Homo sapiens: one gene and its partners. The protein of the gene in region 3 purifies or fractionates together with the protein of the main gene of each other region. This does not show direct contact. Each region holds a gene or a part of one and is shown on either strand. Other genes may lie near its edges.

The links.
Region 1: the proteins of HIKESHI (region 3) and CLEC3A purify together in Homo sapiens (affinity purification with mass spectrometry; 2 studies listed by BioGRID and IntAct, with this or other methods). This does not show direct contact.
Region 2: the proteins of HIKESHI (region 3) and TRMT61B purify together in Homo sapiens (affinity purification with mass spectrometry; 2 studies listed by BioGRID and IntAct, with this or other methods). This does not show direct contact.

The regions. Positions count from the first base shown.
Region 1 is NC_000016.10:78,025,064-78,033,485, reverse strand, and holds the end of CLEC3A (C-type lectin domain family 3 member A precursor), read right to left. Parts: intron 5,380-8,422; coding exon 5,296-5,379; intron 3,040-5,295; coding exon 2,645-3,039; 3' UTR 1,385-2,644; downstream 1-1,384. UniProt on the Homo sapiens protein: Promotes cell adhesion to laminin-332 and fibronectin.
Region 2 is NC_000002.12:28,859,917-28,868,338, reverse strand, and holds part of TRMT61B (tRNA (adenine(58)-N(1))-methyltransferase, mitochondrial precursor), read left to right. Parts: intron 1-3,219; coding exon 3,220-3,322; intron 3,323-7,030; coding exon 7,031-7,221; intron 7,222-8,422.
Region 3 is NC_000011.10:86,332,226-86,340,647, forward strand, and holds part of HIKESHI (protein Hikeshi), read left to right. Parts: intron 1-3,738; exon of another isoform or gene 3,739-4,708; intron 4,709-5,153; coding exon 5,154-5,305; intron 5,306-8,422. UniProt on the Homo sapiens protein: Acts as a specific nuclear import carrier for HSP70 proteins following heat-shock stress: acts by mediating the nucleoporin-dependent translocation of ATP-bound HSP70 proteins into the nucleus.

The DNA of each region.
Region 1 (8,422 bases), on a different chromosome or scaffold from region 3:
TTGAGGCACTTTGGGAAGGATTGCCTTATTTAATGGATCATCTTCAAATGTTGTCTTTTTTTTTTTTTTCAATAGGGTCTCACTCTGTCTGTTGCCCTGGCTGGAGTCAAGTGGTACAATCATGGCTCCTTGCAGCCTCAAACTCCTGGGCTCAAGCAATCCCCCTGCCTCAGCCTCCCAAGTAGCTGGGACTACAGTCATGTGCCATCACACTTGGCTAGTTTTTAAATTTTTTTTGTAGAGACCATGTCTTGCTGTGTTGCCCAGGCTGGTCTTGAACTCCTGACCTCAAGTAATCCTCCTGCCTCAGTCTCTGATGTCGTTGGGATTAGGGGCTTGAACCACCATGCTCAGTAACATTGGTTGTCTTTGTCTTTATTTGGGCCCTTGCAAAGGGGGAAGGAAAAACACCTTCTGTGAAGTAGCCTCAGACTGAATGCTTCTCAAGGTCAGCTGTTAGTCCAGATTGTTACTTCACCTAAGGAAATTGAGATACTGGATTAGAATCCACTCCCATTGCCTTTCTGAATGGGCTTTACCTTTTATTGCTCCCCATGGGTAGTAAGTATACAGGATCTGAGTCAGCTTGTTAAGTTCCAGTGACAGTTCCACTATTTCCTGGCCTGTGACTTAGGACAACTTAACTCTCTTTTTTTTCTTCTTCTGTAATATGAAATGATTCTAGAGCCTAATTCTCCAGGTTAAATTCCCAGGGTTGTTCCTCAAGATAAATGATAATTATATAAGATCTAGCATAGTACCTGAAATGTGAAGAGAATGCACTTACTCACCAGTGTCCACCCGTTTCATTATGGTCATTACCTTTACGAAGACTGTGGTTACGTTGGAAGTAGGGAGTTGGCCAAGATCAACCAGATATAATTGCAGCTACATTTTTTGCTGTTTTGAGACAAGGTCTTGCTCTGTCATCCACGCTGCAGTGTCGTGGCACAATCTGAGCTCATTGTAGCCTCAGCTTCCTGAGTTCAAGAAATCCTCCCAGCTCAGTCTCCCGAGTAGCTGGGATCACAGGTATGCCTTACCACACCTGGCTAATTTTGGTACTTTGTGTAGAGACAGGGTTTCGCCCTGTTGCCCAGGTTGGTCTTGAACACTTGAGCTCAAGTGATACGCCCACCTCAGCTTCCCAAAAAGCTGGGATTATAGGTGTGAGCCACTGCGCCCAGCCTCTGCAGCTAAAATTTTTTAAAAGTTTCCCTCCTCTAGCCAGACCATACCTCTTCATTGCCAGGTAAAATTGTTCTCTGAGTATATCCGAATCACCAGTTTGATTAAATTCAGGGTAATTCCCCTCAAACTCTGCCAAGTTTAATATAAACCAACATATTTTGAATAACTGTAATTAACACTCGAACACATTTTCTATTGATCAGAATTCAGGCTTTATTATTGAGCAATGAAAACAGCTAAAACTTAATTCCAAGCATGTGTAGTTAAAGTTTGCAAAGTGGGATATTGTTCACAAAACACATTCAATGTTTAAACACTATTTATTTGAAGAACAAAATATATTTAAAATTGTTTGCTTCTAAAAAGCCCATTTCCCTCCAAGTCTAAACTTTGTAATTTGATATTAAGCAATGAAGTTATTTTGTACAATCTAGTTAAACAAGCAGAATAGCACTAGGCAGAATAAAAAATTGCACAGACGTATGCAATTTTCCAAGATAGCATTCTTTAAATTCAGTTTTCAGCTTCCAAAGATTGGTTGCCCATAATAGACTTAAACATATAATGATGGCTAAAAAAAATAAGTATACGAAAATGTAAAAAAGGAAATGTAAGTCCACTCTCAATCTCATAAAAGGTGAGAGTAAGGATGCTAAAGCAAAATAAATGTAGGTTCTTTTTTTCTGTTTCCGTTTATCATGCAATCTGCTTCTTTGATATGCCTTAGGGTTACCCATTTAAGTTAGAGGTTGTAATGCAATGGTGGGAATGAAAATTGATCAAATATACACCTTGTCATTTCATTTCAAATTGCGGCTGGAAACTTCCAAAAAAAGGGTAGGCATGAAGAAAAAAAAAAAATCAAATCAGAACCTCTTCAGGGGTTTGTGTTCTGATATGGCAGACAAGATACAAGTCCCACCAGGAGATGGAGCAATTCAAAATAAGGGTAATGGGCTGACAAGGTATTATTGCCAGCATGGGACAGAATGAGCAACAGGCTGAAAAGTTTTTGGATTATATAGCACCTAGAGTCTCTGATGTAGGGAATTTTTGTTAGTCAAACATACGCTAAACTTCCAAGGGAAAATCTTTCAGGTAGCCTAAGCTTGCTTTTCTAGAGTGATGAGTTGCATTGCTACTGTGATTTTTTGAAAACAAACTGGGTTTGTACAAGTGAGAAAGACTAGAGAGAAAGATTTTAGTCTGTTTAGCAGAAGCCATTTTATCTGCGTGCACATGGATCAATATTTCTGATCCCCTATACCCCAGGAAGGGCAAAATCCCAAAGAAATGTGTTAGCAAAATTGGCTGATGCTATCATATTGCTATGGACATTGATCTTGTGTTGCAATTTTTTAATAAGTAAAAATTATGATTTTTACTTGATCTTAGAGATCATGAACCTATAAGTTATGATGAATCTTGCTTGGAGGACACATTGGAGAAAGACCTATTGAGGGATGGTGAACTCGCATATGTATCTCTTGCTGCTGCGACAGGCCTCATCACTCCACTTGCCCTGAGCTGATTGGGAGAACAGGACACAGTTTTCTCGCTTGCCACCGTTAGGCTGTGCACGGTCCCAGTTGAGGAAGGAGATAGCGATTCCGTTGACGTCAACAAACTTGCCTTCCGTGACCATGTCATTGATGCCCAGCCAAAAGTCATTGACACCTGGCAGGCTCCTTTTACCATAGTCTTGGAGGGCGTTGATTTCGTCGGAGTTCCTGGGGATAACCAGGATTCCTCCTTTGGAAATGCAGTCTTCATTGGCCTCATGGAAATGCTTCAAACCTTCTGAAGCAAGGTAGCATTTCTTGTGAACTTTAGTGCCTCGGAGACAGACTGTGAAGATGTGAAGTGTAACATATTAAGATGCATTTTGAGTGTATTATGACTAGGGCTGGACCTGGCAAATAGCAATAAGTATTTGTGGAATGAAGTATGATAATGATGAGACAACAGTTAAAATTTTCTATGTGCCGGACAACATGCTAAGCATTTTACATAAATTAAGTTACATAATCCTGACAACCCCATGAAGTTGTATTTTATTACCCCTATTTTTACATATCAGGATATTTAGGCTTAGAGAAGTTGTTACTTGTAACACCTTAGCATTTTTTTTTTTTTTTTTTTGAGTTGGAGTCTCGCTCTGTCGCCCAGGCTGGAGTGCAGTGGCGCCATCTCGGCTCACTGCAAGCTCCGCCTCCCGGATTCACGCCATTCTCCCGTCTCAGGCTCCCGAGTAGCTGGGACTACAGGTGCCTGCCACCACACTCGGCTAATTTTTTGTATTTTTAGTAGAGACGGGATTTCACCGTGTTAGCCAGGATGGTCTCGATCTCCTGACCTCATGATCCGCCTGCCTCGGCCTCCCAAAGTGCTTGGATTACAGGCGTGAGCCACTGCGCCTAGCCACATTTTTTTAAATGAAGTAATTTTTGCAGCATGTGAGATCACAGCTACCCAAATGCAGGTCTGCCCTATCCCAAGACATGGCCTTAAACTTCATGCTGTTCTGATATATACATGCTTGCTACTCTGTGTTGGATTTCTTTGGGAGTTTTGGAACTAGATGGTATTTAATATTTATTTTTAAAAATATTTGTTTAAAAAAAAAATGCTTGGCGTGGTGGCTCACACTTATAATCCCAGCACTTAGGGAGGCAGAAGCGGGTGGATCACAAGGTCAAGAGTTCAAGACCAGTCTGGCCAACATAGTGAAACCCCGTCTGTACTAAAAATACAAAAAATTAGCTGGATGTGGTGGTGTGTGCCTATAATCCCAGCTACTCAGGAGGCTGAAGCAGGAGAATCGTGCGAACCTGGGAGGCAGAGGTTGCAGTGAGCCGAGATTGCGCCATTGTACTCCAGCCCGGGCAACAGTGCAAGACTCTGTCTCAAAAATCAATCAATCAATCAATCAATTAAATTCTAGTTTTGCATGTGGAGAGACAGGGATTTTCTTAAGCAGATAACTGAGCCTTGGTAATATTGTTTAGATTATTCAGGATAAACTGAGCATAAAGATAGTTTTAGGCCGTAGCACTGGAGAGTCAGGCCTCAGAGCCCATAGTGCCTGGGTTTAGGTCTCATCTCTGACATTTAACTAGCTGTGTATCTCTTGAACAAATTACTTACCTTCTTTGTGCCTCATTTTCCTCATCTGTAAAATTAGGATCATAATAGCTTAAGTTGCTGGAGGATTAATGGATTTGTGTTTATAAAGAATTTCTAGTACCTGACTGTGGGTAAAGGATGAACCAAACTCACCTTCTGCATAAGCATTTGACTGTCTTTTAACTTTCTAATTCTGTTCCCCCGGAAGCCTGATAAAGGGAGTATGTCACCCTTGTTACTAGGCAACATTGCTTGTGGTAAAAATGACCCCAGGTTGGTAACATGCATCTGGTCTGGGAGTTATAAATACTTGATGGAAAGCCGTAACTTCAGTCTTCCCTGAAGGCAGTAACTTGTAATGAGGCAGGTCTCTTGTGAGGAACCTCAACACCTTGCTTTTGAAATTGCTACAAAGGATATTAGCTCCTTGGGGGATGAGCCTTGTAAACCAGGGCTGTTCCCAAACCTGCCCACATGGCTCACTTCCTCACCCCTTGGAGAATAGCTCCTGGGCAGTAGCGCATGTGGCTGCATAACTGTGGGGAGGAACGCTGGCGCTGCCCTGTTGGCAAGCTGCGGTTCTAACCCATGTCCTTCCAGCATCTTAGGCTGGGTGTGGCCCGAGAGAGTCCTGGTGGCCTGATAGGCACTTAGCTATCATCCAATAAATGCTAATCATTTTAGTCATTTCATACTGGCTTCATTCTGTTTCACTACTCTTTAGAGAATAAGTATGGACTGACTTTTCAAATTTATTCCTGAACTACTTATTTTTATTTCTATACCACCCATATATAGGAGAATGGGATTGTAAATGAAGCTGATTTCCTAAAACAATCATCTCCCGGCATTGGGGCCCTCTTATTGGCCACATTATTGATTTGTCAATGTTTCTTTTAAAAAGACGTCCCCCAGAAATTGACCCAGAAATTTTCCTGTCTCCTTTGGGACAAGGCACTGAGAAGGTCTGCACCTTACCTGTCTGCAGGGCTTGAATTTCCTTCAAGGCATTGACTTCTGTCCAGAGCTTTTCAATTTGAGTCTTCAGATCTCCATCCTTGTCTGGGGAAAATTTTAGGGTGGGATGGGGTAGGTGGATGAAAAGCGTATGATTAAAATAAAATCAAGCTTTGGAATGTAGGACCCAAGGCAATAGTGGTTTTGGTGAACCTGAGCCCAGTGTATACAAAAAATAATGCGTGAAAATAACTTGGGGCTGGCGAAGTGGCTCACGCCTGTAATCCCAGCACTTGGGGAGGCCAAGGCGGGTGGACCACTTGAGGCCAGGAGTTCGAGACCAGCCTGGCCAACATAGCAAAACCCTGTCTCTACTAAAAGTATAAAAATTAGCTGGGCATGGTGTTGAATGCCTGTAATTCCAGCTATTTGGGAAGCTGAGGCATGAGAACTGCTTCAACTTGGGAGGCAGAGGTTGCAGTGAGCAAAGATCATTCCACTGCACTCCAGCCTTGGTGAGGGAGTGAAACTCTGTCTGAAAAAAAACCAAACAAACAAAAAAACAATGAATGAAGGAAAGAAGGAAGGAAAAAAAGAAAAAGAAAATAACTTGGACAGGAAGATTCTTAAGAGCTTCATGGCAATCATAATACTAGAAGGTCCTTCTGTGAGATGAGGCTCCTTCTGTCTCTCCAGTCACATCCTGTGACTCTAGGCTTGTTGACTTTCAGGGTCATCTGAGAATGAGCTCAATCTCATCTTCCCTGTGTGTTCCTTCTGCTAGGATCACTCTTGCTCCAGCGCTTTCCTGTATTCTTAGCAAGCTTAAATATCTCCTCTTCTGAGAAGGCTTTCCTGGTTATACTATAATTTAGTATCCCTTCTGCTAATCTGTCTTTGAAACTTATTTTTCTTCATTCTCTAGTCTCAGTTCACATTTTATTTTATTCCATATTTTATAGAGTATTCTGTATATTTTCTTTTCTCTATTTTACTTTATTTCATCTGTCTTATTATTCTTGGTTCTTCTGATGCTTAACATGATACTTGGTACATAATAGGTGTTCATAATATTGTCTAGTGAATACACACTTTATGGTATACAAAATTGTTTTCACTTGCTCTTCAAACATAGCTATGAAGGGAGAAAAATTGGATTCCCACTGAAGAATGAGGACAAGTCCAATGAGAGTGTCTCAAAAGATACATGGCAGAATTCATACTCTGACTGATTTGGGTCCCCAGGTCCCCTGTCCCCAGTGTTCCGACTCAACACATGCCTCAGGTATGGTGGCTACTAGCAGGGTTAAGTGCTAAAGGTTCATATAGAAATACGTCTATATTAGGTATTAGCAACTTAAGTCTTGTATGTTCCTGGATGAGGCTAAAGGATCTTTATAGCTGTCCTTGACCAATCTTGGCTATAAGTAAGTGGCAGAAAACAAGAAGCCTTGGATAAATTGAAATTTCAGGTGTAATAAGGATTCTCTTAGAGATTGGCAGCTTGTGAGGTCTTCAAAAGCAGGAATTATAAATCATAACAAAAATTATTAAAAGCTTCCACATACTGTTTGTCAGAGATCAATTCTTTCAGTAGTGCTTTGAGAGAGACACAATCATTGTCTCCATTCTGCAGAAGAAAGAGTCCCGGAAAGCTGAATTCACCTGCTGAAGGTCACCCAGCTAGTAAAGTGAAGAATTGGGATTTAAATTTGCCCAGCTCCAGGCCTGTTCTCATTTCATCCCTCTTACCTGCTTCTGCACAGTGATTGCCTCTACCTTCTTGGTCCCGAGCACATGGCCCCAGACAGAGAAGATACTTAAAGCTTGGTATGAACTGTTCCCAGCTGCTTCTTTGTGGGGATTCCATGGAGGAAGTCTATGTTCTGTACTGGATTTTTCAGGACAGTCTAAAATTCACATGTGCTAATTCACTGTCCCCTTAAACATGTGCTTCATAAGCCAGATGTTTCCTCATTTGGGTTAGGAAGCTGTCTTCTGGAATATCCAGGGGTGGCCCCTGCCTCTGTTTTACTTAATGCTACACATCAGTTCTCAAAGCATCCCATGGCTCAGCTCAGAAATACTATAACCTAAAGATTTTTACCTGTGTGACCATTTAATCCAGAAAAAATGTAAGGGTGCATTCAGAATGCAAATTCATCAGCTGGTGGGGGCCGGGCTTGCAAAGACTGCTGAACACTTTCTTCCAAGGTATAAGCTGTCACCTCTAAAAATGTCATCCCCCATCCCTCTCAGCTTCCTGCTCCATTCTCCTTAAATAAGTGGCCTCTACTGGGAGATTGTAAACATTGTAATTAACATGAAGACACATGAATTGATATTAGGCTCCTGGGAGATGGTTATGAAATTCATTGTCCAGGGACTTGGCTGTAGCTTCCATCCTTTGTAGCTGATATAGATGTCTTTTATGTACAACAAACAAAGGGAATATGTGGAACAACTACTGAGCTGGAAAAGTCATATTTTATTCATGAATGCAACACATAAATTGAGACCTATGAAGCAAGTACCAGAGAGATCTTGTGTTTGAAGCTAAATTCTTCGGTTGCTATTTTGAGTCCCCCAGAAGGCTCCCTTTCATTTTACTGTTGCTCTCCAGAGGTAGACACAGTGTAGAAACACAAAAGTCATTCCCAGAAGACATGGCCAGTAAAACCATTATATGATGTTGGACTGTCAAAATACATAGGAATGGGCACTCCCATACACAGAAGATGGGAAGATGGATTGGTGTTATCATTTGGAGGGACAATTAGAAAGTATAATTAACCTGCAATTTTACTTCTGGAAATGTCTCATAACATCCTAACATGGGGAGCAGTATGTGTGCAAAGCAGTTACTTGGGGCTATTGAATCAAAAAGAGATGTATTGGGAGAGATCAGATTAAGTGATGACCCATCCAAACAATGGAATATTATGCAGCTGTTAAAATGAATAAAGTATTGCTTACACTGGTAACTATCCAAGGTTTAATAGATGAAATAAATTTATTTGCCTAGCCAAACATTCTGCATAGCCAATTCTTATTTTGTTAAAAATATGTATTTTAATTGTGCATTTTAAAAACTCTGGGAATAGGCTGGGTATGATGGCTCATGCCTGCAATCCCATCACCTGAGGTC
Region 2 (8,422 bases), on a different chromosome or scaffold from region 3:
TTGATAGGAAACCTAAATAAGGAAGAGCTTGCCTTGTAAACAGATCTAGGAAGAGAATTGTTCTTGCAAAGGGAGGAATGCTGCAGAGTTTCTGTTGTGGCCTCAATGGGTCAGATGAGGGACCCCGTATGAGGTGTGGTTTGAGTATTTTATTCCATTTGTAGTGAAGGACCATTAGAAGGTTCTTAGTAGGAATCCAGTCTGTATTTTAAACGGTCTACCCAGGGACTAAAAAAACTTTCCTCAGAAACTTAGGCTACTGAGGTATAATAAGCTTTTTTTGTTTAAAGACAAGGTCTTGCTATGTCACCCAGGCTAGAGTGCAGTGGCTCAATCACCTCTTACTGTAGCCTGAACCTCCCAGGCTCCAACAATCCTCGCACCTCAACCTCCTGAGTAGCTGGGACCACAGGTGCATGCCACTATGCCTAGCTAATCAAAAATTTTTTTTGTAGAGTTGGGGTCGCCCTAACTTGCCCAGACTGGTCTCAAACTTCTCTAGGCTCAAGGGATCCTCCCTTGAGGGTGCTGGGATTACAGGTGAGAACGACCGCTCCTGGCCATGGTATCATAAGCTCTTGAAGAAAACTAAAAGACTTTCGTAATTTTATCTTGCTTCCCCGTGTCTCCTTTCTCCCCATTAGACAAAATCAGGAGAGATTAGTTACATTTCATGAAGTTATAAATATGCATATTTAGTATACTTTCTGCCTTTCCATTTGTTACAGATAAAAGTCACATTGTTCCACTCTAAGGAGGAATTTAAGTACTAAATTTGTTAGGTGTTGACTTCTCTTTATAGCTTCCAAGTAATGGCTGGAGATAGTTTTACTTCAACTTCTACAACTTTGAAATGCTTGAGGGAATACCTTCACTGATGTTTAAAAACTGATCTCCCTGTTAGAATTACATAATTCCATCTTAGTATTAAAAATATGACCAGAGGCAGAGTGCAGTGGCTCACACTTGTAATCTCAATATTTTGGGAGGCTGAGGCAGGAGGATCATTTGAGCCCAGAAGTTTGAGACCAGCCGGGGCAACATAGGGAGACCTTGTCTCTACAAAAAATAAAAAATTAGCCAGGTATGCTGGCACACACTTGTGGTCCCAGCTACGCAGGAGGCTGAGATGGGAGGATTGTTTGAGCCCAGGAGTTTGAGGCTGCAGCGAGCCATGATCTTGCCACTGCACTCCAGCCTGGGCAACAGTGTAAGATCCTATCTCAAAAAAAAAGTGAGGGGGCAGGTGCCGTCACTCACACCTGTAATCTCAGTGCTTTGTGAGGCCAAGGCAGGAGGATTGCTGGAGGCTAGGAGTTCAAGACTAACCTGGCCAACATAGCAGGACCCCATCTTTATAAAAAATAAAAAAAAAATTAGTTGGGCATGGTGGTACATGCCTGTGGTCCCAGCTACTTTGGAGGCTGAGGTAGGAGGATTGCTTGAGCCCAGAAGTTCGAGGCTGCCGTGAGCTACTATTGCACTACTACACTCCAGTCTGAGTGACAGAGACCCTGTCACCAAGAAAATTTGTTTACTAAATTTAAAAAAACAGTTTTTATTAATATCATCCGTAATATTTGTGTTAACAAAAACAATTCCAATTATATGTTTGGCAAGTGGGTCCTCCAATCTAGTAATAGCATAGTCTCTTTTTTTTCTTATATAGCAGGGCTCCCCTACCCCCAGGCTGAGGACTGGTACCAGTGTGTGGCCTGTAACAGGGAACCGGGCCACACAGCAGGTTAGCGGTGGGTAGTGAGCATTACTGCCTGAGCTCCATCTCTTGTCAGATCAGCCATGGCATTAGATTCTCATAGGAGTGCAAACTCTTGTGAACTGTGCATGCACCAGATCTAGGTTGCATGCTCCTTATAAGAAACTAACTAATGCCTGATGATCTGAGGTGGAACAATTTCATCCCAAAACCATCCCCCTCTCCCCAGTCTGTGGAAAAACTGTCTTCCACGAAACGGGTCCCTAGTGCCCAAAAGGTTGGGGACCGCTGTTATATAGTATCTTAATTCTAAATTAGAAGTTCATCATTTGGCCAGGCACGTTGGCTCACACCTGTAATCCCAGCACTTTAGGAGGCCGAGGCGGGCAGATCACCTGAAATCAGGAGTTTGAGACCAGCCTGGCCAACATGGTGAAACCCCATCTCTACTAAAAATACAAAAAATTAGCTGGGTGTGGTGGTGGGTGCCTGTAATCCCAGCTACTTGGGAGGCTGAAGCAGGAGAATCGCTTGAACCCAGGAGGCGGAGCTTGCAGTGAGCCAAGATTGTACCACTGCACTCCAGCCTGGGTGACAGAGCGAGACTCTGTCCCCCCAAAAATAAGAAGTTCATCATTTTGAGCTGGGCACACTGGCTCACACCTGTAATCCCAGCACTGTGGGAGGCTGAGGCGAGCGGATCACCTGAGGTCAGGAGTTCAAGACCAGCCTGGCCAACGTGGTGAAACCCCATCTCCACTAAAAATACAAAAATTAGCCGGGCATGGTGGCAGGCACCTGTAATCCCAGCTATTCGGGAGGCTGAGGCAGGAGAATCGCTTGAACCCGGGAGGCGGAGGTTGCAGTGAGCCAAGATCGTGCCATCACACTCCAGCCTGGGGGACAAGAGTGAGACTTCGTCTCCCAAAAAAAAAAAAAAAAAAAAAAAGGAAATTCATCATTTTATGCAGAGATTATATAGTAAATTCCTAACTGGTCTTCCTGCCTCTTGATTTTTCTCCAGTAGATCCTGTATTCTTCTGCCAGATTAATCCTCATAAAATGCCATTTATATCACCTCAGTGACACACCCTAGTTGCTTATCAGGCTGAGTTCTAATGCCTCATACTGGCATTTAATTCTCTGCCTATCTCTCCTGAGATAACAAACTGGATTTATTCTACCTCTGCTTTGTTTAAAGCTGTTTTTACCTTGTGATTGTTCCCATAAATTGTCTACTCTTTGTCTTTAAACTAGGCCATCCTGCTACTCTATGAACTTATTGTCTGTAATTTTGGTATTATTCTGAAGTGTTGCCTTATTTGTTAATTGATTCTTGGATCTCTTTTATTTCATCAAGTGAAATATAAACTGAAGGCAGGTCCAGAGTCTGATTCGTTTTTTCACTCCCTTCTTCTGCACACCCAACAATGTAAGATAAGACTAGGTGCTTAGTACATATTTATTGGTCGCTGAGTCACCCATACTGTTTTCAATCATAGGATATTAATATGATTCTCTCAATGATGGATATCAACCCAGGTGATACTGTTTTGGAAGCTGGCTCAGGCTCTGGTGGAATGAGCTTATTTTTATCCAAAGCAGGTAAGAGATTGGACTGAGCTGGATCTCAGTAACAAAGAAAACATTCAATTTGTTCATAATAACAGAAAGGTATAAAGATATTTGGGAAAATACCTAACATTGAGGTAGCATTCTCCTAGAATCTGAAAGTAAGCAACTATTTTTCTTTCCATTCTGTACATTTATTCCAGTCAGTCTCTTTCTAATCCTCCCTCAATTTTCTTTGCTTTGTTTTACTTTCTCCATGCTCTCTAATGCTGCTTCTTTTTTCTTAAGTATACTTTTTATTGGAATATAATATGGCTACAGAAAAGTGTGCAGATCATAAGTGTATATCTCAATGAATCTTTGTATAGTGACCACTCATGTACTTATTACCGAGATCAAGGTAGGGAGTGTCCCTGCCCCACAGATGCCTCCTCATGTCCCCTCCCAGTCCTTATCATCACCAAAGGAAACCACTATTGTGACTTTTATCATCACTGATTAGTTTTGCCTCCTTCGAACTTATATAAAATGGAATCATACAGTATGTGCTCCTTTGTATCTGGCTACTCTCATTCATTATTATGTTTGTGAGATTCACTCATTGCATGCAGCAGTAGTTCTTTCATTTTAGTTGCTGTATAATACTCTCTATTTAAATCACAATTTACCTATTTTACTGTTGATAGACATTTGAGTTGGATATTACAAATAGTGCTGCTTGGAACCTCCTTGTGTACTTGTCATGTTATTGTTGAATACTAGTGCCAGGTGAATACTTAGCCTGAGGGAATATGGAAGGACGTTGTCAGCTGTTGGGGGGAGAGTTATATATCGTTAGGGCCAAAGAATTATAGTAGGTGTTCATAAAGAAATTAATCATAGTACAGAGCTATTAAGTAAAAAGCTAGATCATGAAGAATTATCTTTTTTTTTTCCAGAAAGTCTCTAAAAATTGTCAGTTGGTAAAAGTACTGCTTGAAGGTGGGTGTCTGATCAAAAATCAAGAGGTGTATATTAAACATATATATTTTTTCATGTTCCTACCACTTAATTTCTAGTTACTTTTATGCTAGTTGATTAGTACCTCTTTGCCTACCTAATTTCTCTGAGTGTCAGGGTTGCTTTGGGTGGTCTGTCTGTGCAGTGTTCTCTTCCCTACATAATACTAGACTGCTGAATAGTCACAGTACTTTCTTTGAGTAGATTTTATAAAGATTACAGATAGAAATATGCTGAAATTAAACTCACACCTTTTGTTCTTTGACCTAATGTCTTCACATATGAATATTATCTAGATTATACTAAGCCGGTAAATTCATTCTGGGCTCCTCAATCAATCTTTTGTTTGACTTTTCTGTACATAGTTAAAGGCAGTCATTTTCTCATCATCTATGACAAATTCCTAACTGCACGGTTTCATTTGACAAAGTGGATTTATAAAAATTGGTGAGAACAGATAAGTGCCTATATTTCTAAAATATATAGTATCAGAAGAGTGTCATGGCTTGAATAATCCTAAACTATAAATGTGCAAGAACTTATTGCTATTTACCTATGTGATGGATATTTTTCTCCATATTTTCTTTTCCAGTTGTTTATGTTACTTTTTTTTTTTTTTTGAGGCGGGTTCTCACTCTGTTCCCCAGTTTGGAATGCAGTGGTATGATCGTGGCTCACTACAGCCTTGACCCTCGGAACTCAAGTGATCCTGTCGTCCCAGCCTCCCAAGTAGGTGGGACAATAGGCACATACCACCAAAGCTGGCTAATTTTTAAAGTTTTTGTAGAGACTGGGTCTCACTGTTGCCCAGGCTGGTCTTGAACTCCTGGCCTCAAGCAATCTTGCCTAAGCCTCCCAAAGTGCTGGGATTACAGGCATGGGGCACCACGCCCAGCTTATGTTACTATTAAAATTAATTTTTATCTCCTGAGAACCTGATAACTTGCAGTTGGAGTTACATTTCAAAAGATACCTTGGAATTTAAACTTCATTAGTAAACTGTAAACTGATTGATCTGGGATAATCTCCAAATGGTATCAAATCACTTCAGATAGAGGTGGGTGGAAAGTTAATTGCCTTAAGTTAAAATGTAGTACTCCTCTCTGGAATTGCAGTATTACTGTGCTAATTAGTTTAAAAGTTCTTCACATACACACACACACACACACACACACACACACACACAAATACAAATACCTTTAATTTTTTTTTTTTATTTTTTGGTAGAGACAGGGTTTCACCATGTTGGCCAGGCTGGTCTCGAACTCCTGACCTCAAGTGATCTGCCTGCCTTGCCCTCCCAAAGTGCTGGGATTACTGTGGCGAGCCACTGTATCCGGCCACAAATACCTTTTAAATATATGAAAGACTCAACCTCATCCATAATAAAAGAAATGCAAGTTAAAATTACATTAAAAGGCTGAGCATGGTGGCTCACGTCTGTAATCCCAGCACTTTGGGAGGCCGAGGCAGGCAGATTGCTTGAGCTCACGAGTTTGAGACCAGTCTGGCAACATGGCGAAACCCTGTCTCTACCAAAAATACAAAAAGTTAGCTGGGTGTGGTGGCACACACCTGTCGTCCCAGCTGTTCAGGAGGCTGAGGTGGGAAGATCGCTTGAGCCTGGGAGGTGGGGGTTGCCGTGAGCTGTGATTGCACCACCGCACTCCAACCTGCGTGACAGAGTGAGATCTTGTCTCAAAAAAAAAAAAAAAAACCAAACTCAAAAATCTACATTAAAAATGATAAACTTTATTCACTTTTTAGATTGATACAGATAAAAAGTTCAATAACTTAGGGAGAGTATGGAGATACAGGTATTCTTTTTTTTTTTTTTTTTTTTTTTGAGACGGAGTCTTGCACTGTCACCCAGGCTGGAGTGCAGTGGCGCATCTTGGCTCACTGCAATCTCTGCCTCCCAGGTTCACGCCTTTCTCCTGCCTCAGTCTCCCGAGTAGCTGGGACTACAGGCATGTGCCACAACACCTGGCTAATTTTTTGTATTTTTTTTAGTAGAGACAGGGTTTCACCGTGTTAGCCAGGATGGTCTCAATCACCTGACCTCATGATCTGCCCGCCTCGGCCTCCCAAAGTGCTGGGATTACAGGCGGGAGCCACTGCGACCGGCCTGAGATACAGGTATTCTAATACATTGCTGGTTGGCATATAAGTTGACACCACTTACGTGGAGGACAATGTAATATTATGTGAATAAATTCACATACCCCTTGAGCCAGCAATTCCATTTTTAGGACTTTATCCTGTAGAGATATACTGGCTTGATACAAAGACTTAGGTATAAGAATTTTCATTGCAGTATTGTTTATATTAGCATATGACTAGAAACAAGCTAAATGTTCATCGTAGCCATACAGTGAATATAATGCCTGTTAAAAAAGAATGCAGTACATCTAGAAGCACTGAAATGACATTGGTAAGTAAGAAGGAAGGTACAGGACAGTGTGTATAATACACCACAGTGTGTATTAAAAACACAGAGAGATACTTGGCATGCTTGTATAGGCAGTGACTATCATGGGAAAGGTAAATAGCTGGTAATGTGGTTGCCTCTGAAGAGGGAGGGAGATTAATTGGAGATCAGGGATAGGAGATCAGACTTGTAACATTGAACTATTTGAATTATTTTTTTCACATACATGTAGTACCTTTGCAAAATACATTTTTGACACTTTTTAATAAACTGATTAATATTATGAAATATCAAATTATTTTTTACTTAAGTTGGATCACAAGGACGAGTCATAAGTTTTGAGGTACGAAAAGACCACCATGATCTGGCTAAGAAGAATTACAAACACTGGCGTGATTCATGGAAATTAAGTCATGTAGAAGAGTGGCCAGACAATGTGGATTTTATTCATAAGGACATTTCAGGAGCAACCGAAGACATAAAATCTTTAACATTTGACGCAGTAAGTTTTCTAACGTGGGTCCTGTGTTATTACTTTGACTATAAAGAAGATAGGGGTCAGGCTTCTTTTGTATGGGCAAAGGTCTTCCTTCGTTTGCTTCATGTCTATCTCTAGGGATTGAAAGAATATTTTCGTTTCATGCCTTTTAATCTCATGGTGGGATTTGGGACAGAGAGACATACTGAGTTACCGAGTTGGGTGCTGAAGTTGTCATTGAATGTGGGGTAATGACTGAAAGCTAGGACCAAAGACTAGTTGAGCATCATGAACCTCAGCATTTCTAGGATGAATCATACTTTGGAAGCAGCATTGGAAGCATATTGAACCCGGCACCTAACCTGAACTGTGAGATTTGGGGGAATAAGTAGCTTCCATTTGACAGGGAATAGGCAGAAGGCATCTTTAGTTAGTTGAAGTCAGGATATCAAGGGGAGTGTGTTCATTGAAGATGTCGAGGACAGAGGTGTTTATCATGAACAAAGCTCCAGAAAGTGGAGCAGAGACATTGTGAGGAAGAGAAACACTGGGAAGTTGACTTAGGGAAAAGAAGCAGAGAAGATGAAAGTAAAAAGATAGATGACAAGAGAGGATACATTAAGCTGCGATCAAACATGGTGGAGATCTGGGACATGGAAGTATTTGCTGGCTGAAGAGTTTCAGAATTCCTTGGTGATGCCACTTCACAGTTCATAGCTTCACACTATGGACTGAGGCCTTGGTTAGGAGTCTTTCTTCCTTTCCTTAATTGGCTGCTGGAAGGATGGACTGTTTTGGTGAGAAATGAAGCAAAGTTCAAAGAGGAGAGAAAATCTTTTTTTTTTTTTTTTTTTTTTTTTTTTTTTTTTGGCAACAGAGTCTCATTCTGTTGCTTAGGGTGGAGTGCAGTGGTACAGTCTCAGCTCACTGCAACCTCCGCCTGCCGGGTTCAAGCGATTCTCCTGCCTCAGCCTCCCAAGTACCTGGGATTACAGGTGCACGCCACCATGGCCAGCTAATTTTTGTATTTTTAGTAGAGATGGGGTTTCACCATGTTGGCCAGGCTGGTCTCGAACTCCTAACCTTAGGTGATCTGCCCATCTCAGTCTCCCAAAGTGCTGGGATTACAGGCATGAGCCACTGTGCCTGGCCATGAAAATGATTTTTATCAGCACTGGCTTCCAGCTCTGATATAACTAAAACCTATAGTTTTAGTGGCACAGCT
Region 3 (8,422 bases):
AGTGCTGGGATTACAGGCGTGAGCCACCGTGCCCGGCCCGTAACTGTTTTCTTTAGTCCTCATCTCTTTGCTGCTATGCACACTTACAGACATCTCAACCAGTGGACTTTTAATTTTTAAATTTCCCTTTTGAGCATTTTTACCCATTAGAAGGATTGGTACTTCATGAGTTTTATTCTTTTGTAGAGGTCTTAAAGAACAGAGAGGAAAAAAAAATAAAGAATAGAGATAACATTTACTTACATGTTTTTTAATAGAATAAAACTCATTTTATCTTGCAATTACCATATGGACCACTTTGTAAATCTAAGAAGCATTTGGGGATATTACTGGTCTTACTTTACCTATATATTGAAGCATTTTGTTATTTCATCCAGGAAATTATTTTATCAGTACTCATCAAAACTATACTTACAAAAAGGGGGCTAAAATAAAAAAAGAAAAATGTTGGAATTAGCTAGAGTAGAAGTTGGCAAACTTTTTTGTGAAGGATCAGTTAGAAAATATTGTAGGCATTGTGGGCTACATTTGATCTCTGTGGCATATTATTCTTAAACAACCCTTTAAATATTTGAAAACCATTCTTAGCTCCCACGTCATACAAAATAGGTTGTGGGACCGATTTGGCCTGTGGGCCTTGGTTTGTCATTGCATTAACCTACAATTTTCATGTTGCATTGCCCAAAAGATTATGCCACCTTTTAAGTAATATAAAAGGAGACTGGAGACACCATCTTTATGGTCTCTTTTTAGCTTTTATTGAACAGAATGTAAATTCATACTTTTAAATATTTTGTTCATAATGGCAAAGAGAAGAAAATTGACAGAGGAAGAAGTTTCACAATTATTAGACAAATCAGAAAATGAATACTGAAAGGTAAATTCTACACTGATGACGATGGTAAAGTGGATCATATAAGCAAAATTACCTACTATGAATCTTCAAATAAGATCTCATTATCTGAGTTTTCTCAACTAAAAATTTGATGATTGAACAATGTATTTTTAAGGATCAAGAGAAAATATGAGGCCGGGTGCGGTGGCTCATGTCTGTAATCCCAGCACTTTGGGAGGCCGAGATGGGTGGATCACTTGAGGTCAAGAGTTCCAGATTGGCCTGGCCAACATGGTGAAACCCCGTCTGCACTAAAAATTTGAAAATTAGCCGGTGTGGTTGCACAGGCCTGTAATCCCAGCTACTCGGGAGGCTGAGGCATGAGAATTGCTTGAACCCAGGAGGCGGAGGTTGCAGTGAGCCAAGATCGTCCTACCGCACTCCAGCCTGGGCAACAGAGTGAGACTCTGTCTCAACAACAACAACAACAAACAAACAAAAAAAAAAAAGAAAAGAAATATGGTATTCTACTCAGTCATTTAAGAAGAAGGAATTTCTCACATAATATTTTGTCATGGACAAGTAGTAAAGGATGTGTTCTGCTATTCTTTTATCTCTTATATTTGTGTTCCAAAATAGACTGGATATGGTTTTATAAATAGACAAATGCTGAAAGCAGGGGTGTATAGAGAAGTGATTGGAAGGAAATAGGTATAGGAATGAAAAAAAAAATAATTGGCTTGATCATTCTAAATAATGGTTATAAATCTAAAAATGAAAATATTTTGCAAAATGTAGATCAGAGGATAGCCATCCTTCAACAAATTATGAGCCGTTAAAGGTTTCAAAACTTCAAGCTTTCAGGTATTATATTATGGCAATGTAGATGCCAAAAAAAGAACAAGATACAACCATAAGCTATAACTTTATTAATAGATATCTGACTTATGAAATTTATAAAATGGATGTGTTCCATAAGACGCATGTGTTCCATGTTTATCCATGATGGTTGATGGGCAGTTGTATTCACAGGACATAGCCCATTTCAGCTATATCTTAAAAACAAGGAAAATGTGGAATGACTATCTGGATTTGCTGTACTTAAATACTTAGAAAAAATCTAATAAAGTTGTTTTCCACTATTTCCTGATTCTTCTCAACATTCTTTGTAAAATATGTGTGTGTGTGTGTGTGTGTGTGTGTGTGTGTGTGTAAAGTTTCCATTAGATGCAAATAACAAATGATGGTGACTGCTTTTCCTTGTATACTGAGAATAAAGAACTAGCTCCCTGTAGGAATTTTTCCTCTGAGTTGTGTTTTGTGTTAGGCTCTTGATTTACATGGAGGAGGGATGCTTTGAGAAAGAGTCTTAAAAAAAATTAGCTGCTGCATTTACTGTTAACAGTGTTTTAAAGAACTTGATCTAATTTACATTTGTTTTTTATATTAAGACTAGGTCATATATTTTGCTTGCTCTTCTTTGTATTATGATTTATAATTTATTATTTTTGCATCTATTTGATGATATGCTTTGATAATGATATGTTTTCTGGATTTTAGCATAATTCTAGATTTAAAAGAAATCAAACGGTAGAGTAAGGAGCTCCAGAAAATCCAGTCTTCCATAAAAGCAACAACAACACTGTCAGAAGATCACAGCTCACTGTAGTCTCGATCTCCTAGGCCTAAGCGATCCTCCCACCTCCACCTCCCAAGTAGCTAGGACCACAAGCATGCACCACCTCGCCTGGCTAACTTTTGTAGAGATGGGGTCTCCCCATGTTGCCCAGGCTGGTCTCAAACTTCTGGGCTCAAGCAGTCCTCCTGCCTCAGCCTCTGAAAGTGTTGGGATTACAGGATATGAGCAACTGTGTCTGACCCAGAATCAACTTTTTTGGAACTCTGGTAACTAACCAAAAGCTTGTAGCAATCAGGGGAACATTTAATCAAGAAAATACACTGAATCTCAGTAAGAACAGTGAGCTTTGTGGCATTTGGCTACCCTTGTCCCATCTGCTTCTCAGCTCAGTGATAGCCTTGAAAATAACAGACTCCATTCCTGGTACTGATATAGGGAGCAGGATAGACCTAATTCAGAAAGAATTGTAATTAACTTGTTTTCATCTGTCTGGTGGCTTGCTAGAAGACTGTTTAAAAAAAAAGAGGTCTGCCTTTATGTCACCTAACTTGGAACTCTTCATGGAAAAGTATCTACCTTGGGGGTGTTTGTTAAAAGTATTTACAGACATATGTTTTAGCTACTGTTGCCCGAGGCAAAGGAAAACAGTTGGAGTAAACCAAAACTAACCAGAAAGGTTGGGAATGAGATGCTTTGGGGAATGAGGGCTTTGAAATTCTCTGACATATTCTTGGTAATCTAGAAGGGTACGTGCATTCCCAGAGCTTTGTGCATGCTCAGGAAAGACCCGCGAAGACCCAGAGCTCTCTCTTCTGGCTCACTTTAAGTCTCCGCACAAGCAGGAAGTGAAGACTAAGGTGGAGTTATAAACTGCCTGGCTGAATACTAAAGGCATGTCCCAACACGCAGAGCCCATCTGCAAAGACTGGCAGAATTTTTTGGTTGCAGAGGTTTAAGGAAATTTCTTTCTAATCACTAGCAGACTACTAACTAATGGAACAGAGACTTCACTGGCCACACATAACAAAGAAACAGACTTTACAAAATTAGTTCAGATAAGTCATTAAATGAGGAAACAACTACAATAAACAGCAACAACAAACCCCTAGAAGGTGGAAACATCTGATTTATAGCGTCGTCACATTGTAATATTCAAAATGTCCAGTTTTCTACAAAAAATTATGAAACATACAAAGAAACAAAGTAAGGCTCTTATACAGAGGAAACGAACAGAAACTTCCCCCAGGGAAGCACAGGCAAAGACTTTAAGTAAGCTGTCTTTATTATGCTCAAATTGCTAAAGGAAACCAGAAGAATGATACATCATCAAATAGAGAATATCAATATAGAAATTATAGAAAGGAACTAAACAGAGTTTATAGCTGAAAAGTACAGTAACTGAATGGTTCACTAAAGGGCTTAGATAGCAGAATTGAGTAGACAGAAGAAAGAATCAGTGAAGTCGAAGATAAATTAATTGGAATATCCAGTTTGAAGAGCAGACCCTTAGAGACCTGTGAGACACCCTCAAGTGCACCAACATGCACAGCAGACACAGTGTAATGAGAGTAACATATGGAAAGGCGGGAGGGCTGGAAAGAATATTTGCTCTGGTCTGAATGTTTGTGTCTTTTTATATGATGAGGTCTTTTAAATTTATATGCTGAAATCCTAACCCCCAAGGTATTGGGAGGTAGGGACTTGGATGGTGACTGGGTCATGGGAGTAGAGCCCTCATGAATGGGATTACCACTCTTAGAGTAATAAGAAGATCACTTGCCCTACTACCACGTGAGAACACAGTGAGAAGGCACTGTCTGAACCAGAAAATGGTCCTTCACCAGATACCAAATCTGCCGGTTCCTTGATCTTGGACTTCCCAACCTCCAGAACTGTGAGAAATAAATTTCCGATGTTTATAAGCTACCCAGTTTATGGTGTTTTGTTATAGCAGCCTGAACAGACTAAAACAATATTTAAATAAATAATGCTCAGAAACTTCTCAAATTTGAGGAAAAACATTAACCACATTTAAGAAGCTCAAGAAACTCCAAGTAGGATAAACTACACCAAGACACACGATAATCAAACTGTCAAAAGGTAAAGAGAGAATGTTGAAAGCATCAAGAGAAGTAACTCATCACATGCAAGGATCCTTGCTAAGATTAATAGCTGATTTCTCATCAGAGACCCCATAGTCTTCTAGACGGTAGTGGATTGGCATATTCAGAGTTCTGAAAGGAAAAAAAAAAAAGCCATCAACCAGGAATTATATACTCAGCAAAACTGTCTTTAGAGATGAAGGAGAAATACTTTCCTAGATAAACAAAAACTAAGTCATTGCTGGCAGACCTGCTCCATAAGGAATGCTAAAGGGAGTCTTCTCTATTAATTATTTATTTTTCCCACACTCTGTTACTGTCTGTGTCTAGTTGCAGTAGTTTCAATACATTTCAGAAATGTGACAGCTATTTTTCTGGTGGGAAACTTTTAGTTCTTTTATTCTTTGTTAATATGCTAAAAACGAAGTAGGCTTTTGCATTTATCTGAAAAGAGGGACAAACTTGGACATAAAACTTTTTCATGTATATAAATTAGAGGTTCTTTATAAATTTACAAAGGAAATTGTGTGACTACAAGTTTAATTTGAAATGTGTGTCATATGTTAATTTCTTGCAGGAGAAGGAAGCCAACATCCTTTTGGAGCCATGAATATTGTCCGAACTCCATCTGTTGCTCAGATTGGAATTTCAGTGGAATTATTAGACAGTATGGCTCAGCAGACTCCTGTAGGTAATGCTGCTGTATCCTCAGTTGACTCATTCACTCAGGTAATGCAACATACATTTCATTCTTTACCTCCCCCTCCACTGCTTTATTAAGGTATAATATACAAGTTAAAATCGTAACTTAGGGTATACAATGTGATGTTTTTGATACATGTTTACATTTTGTTTTGTTTTATTTTGTTTTTGAGAGATGGAGTCTTGCTCTGTTGCCCAGGCTGGAGTGCAGTGGCGCAATCTCGGCTGACTGCAATTTCCGCCTCCCGGGTTCAAGCGATTCTCCTGCCTCAGTCTCCTGAGTAGCTGGGACTACAGGCACATGTCACCACACCCGGCTAAGTTTTGTATTTTTTTTTTAGTAGAGACAGGGTATTGCCATGTTGGCCAGGCTGGTCTCGAACTCCAGACCTCAGGTGATCTTCCTGCCTCGGCCTCCCAAAGTGCTGGGATTACAGGTGTGAGCCACCACACCCAGCCTATATTTTGACATAAAATCAAGCTACTTAACATATCAGTCACCTCACACAGTCATCATTTTTTTGTAGAGAACAGTTAAGATCTGATCTCTTAGCAAATTACAAGTATACATTATTAGTAACTGTATTCTCCATGCTGTACAATAGATTTTCAGAATTTATTCATTCCATTGAACTGAAACTTTGTGCCCTTTGACCAACATGTCCTCATTTTCCCTTCCCCTCCACTCTTCAACCCCTGGCAACCATCATTCTACTGTCTGCTTCTGTAAGTTCAACTTTTAGATTCCACATATAAGTGAGATCAATCATGCTATTTGTCTTTCTGTTCCTGACTTCTTAGCCTATTATCAAGAGGAAAAATTGATGATGTAGGAGAGCAAGGAGAACTGCTAAAGCAGTGTCCTTGAGTAGAAAATAGCAGCATATATGGAGGTGTTCACTTTAGACAGGATAATGGATATATGGGTACAGATTCAGGAGGCTGGTAGATGTGGTGATGAGAACTTGTGCAGGCTGTCTCCTGATTTCTTCTTGCTTAGTGAAATAGAAAGGACGATCATCAGCTAAGATCGAGGTAGTAGAAATTGAAATAAAAAAAGACTACTAAATAAGTCTTCTAGCAGAGGAGGAGTGAATGGATTAGGGAAACCATATGTGTTTGCCTGGCAGTACCAGAGGCGCACTTTTGAAGGTTGTGGTCATGAATGTAAAGGTAGATTTGTCACATCTTTGAAAATGGACTGAATTGAGAATGACAGACTCTGGGTCTCAAAAATGTTTTTTTTCCCATAATTTTACAAATAAGCTGCTGTGCTGAAAACAAACTATAAAATAATCGTAGTATCCTGTGTAGACAATATTTTAAAAGTGTCTGGAAAATACACATTAAAATGTTATCCCTGGAGAAGGGTAAGAAGACTTTTTTACTGTACATGTTTATAAATTATTTGAGTTTTTAAAATAAAACTATAGTTTTAATTAAATGTATTACGAAATATTTTAAATACAGAGAAAATAGAGTAACTTATATTTTCCACAAATAGTTATTATGTAACTACTCTGTACCAGGCATGTCTTTTTTTCTTTTTCTTTTCTCTTTGAGACGGAGTCTCACTCTGTCGCCCAGGCTGGAGTGCAGTGGCGCGATCTCGGCTCACTGCAAGCTCCGCCTCCTGGGTTCACGCCATTCTCCTGCCTCAGCCTCCCAAGTAGCTGGGACTACACGTGCCCGCCACCAGGCCCAGCTAATTTTTTTTGTATTTTTTCGTAGAGATGGGGTTTCGCCGTGTTAGCCACGATGGTCTCGATCTCCTGACCTCGTTATCCGCCTGCCTTGGCCTCCCAAAGTGCTGGGATTTCAGGCGTGAGCCACCGCGCCCAGCCTGTACCAGGCATTTCTAAGCACTCATAGATACAAATAGGTCCACAAAATAGAATAACACCTGTCTTTACAGAGCTCTCTTTATGGTGGGGTATACATTAAGACTTCCATTGTCTTCCCCCTGGATTTAACTGTTATATTTTGTCTTATTTGCCACTAATTTTTAAAAAAGAAATTAAGGCATTATAGATATAGCCCACTGCTGCCTGCTTCTCTTCCTGCCTTTTACCTTCTAACTTTTTATATCTTTCCTATTCATATTTTAGTACTTAAAAAAATTCCTGTGTATCCACAAAATATGTATAGTACTATCTGTATCTGTTTAAACATGTTTCTAATTTAATTACTTAGTTACTCCAAATTTTTATGAGTATTACATGTATTTGGTTTAAATAGTCAAATAGTTTTTTTTTATTATACTTTAAGTTCTAGGGTACATGTGCAAAACGTGCAGGTTTGTTACATATGTATATATGTGCCATGTTGGTGTGCTGCACCTATTAACTCGTCATTTACATTAGGTATTTCTCCTAATGCTATCCTTCCCCCTGCCCCCCACCCCAAGACAGACCCGCCCGCCGTGTGTGATGTTCCCTGCCCTGTATCCAGGTGTTCTCATTGTTCAATTCCCACCTATGAGTGAGGACATGCGGTGTTTGGTTTTCTGTCCTTGTGATAGTTTGCTCAGAATGATGGTTTCCAGCTTCATCCATGTCCCTGCAAAGGACTTGAACTCACCCTTTTTTATAGCTGCATAGTATTCCATGGTGTATATGTGCCACATTTTCTTAATCCAGTCTATCATTGGTGGACATTTGGGTTGGTTCCAAGTTTTTGCTATTGTGAATAGTGCCGCAGTAAACATATGTGTGCATGTGTCTTTATAGCAGCATGATTTGTAATCCTTTGGGTATATACCCAGTAATGGGATCACTGGGTCAAATGGTATTTCTTAGTTCTAGATCCTTGAGGAATTGCCACACTGTCTTCCACAATGGTTGAACTAGTTTATACGCCAACCAACAGTGTAAAAGCGTTCCTATTTCTCCACATCCTCTCCAGCATCTGTTGTTTCCTGACTTTTTAATGATCGCCATTCTAACTGTTGTGAAATGGTATCTCACTGTGGTTTTGATTTGCATTTCTCTGATGACCAGTGATGATGAGCATTTTTTCATGTATCTGTTGGCTGCATAAATGTCTTCTTTTGAGAAGTGTCTGTTCATATCCTTTGCCCTCTTTTTGATGGGGTTGTTTTTTTCTTGCAAATTTGTTTAAGTTCTTTGTAGATTCTGGATATTA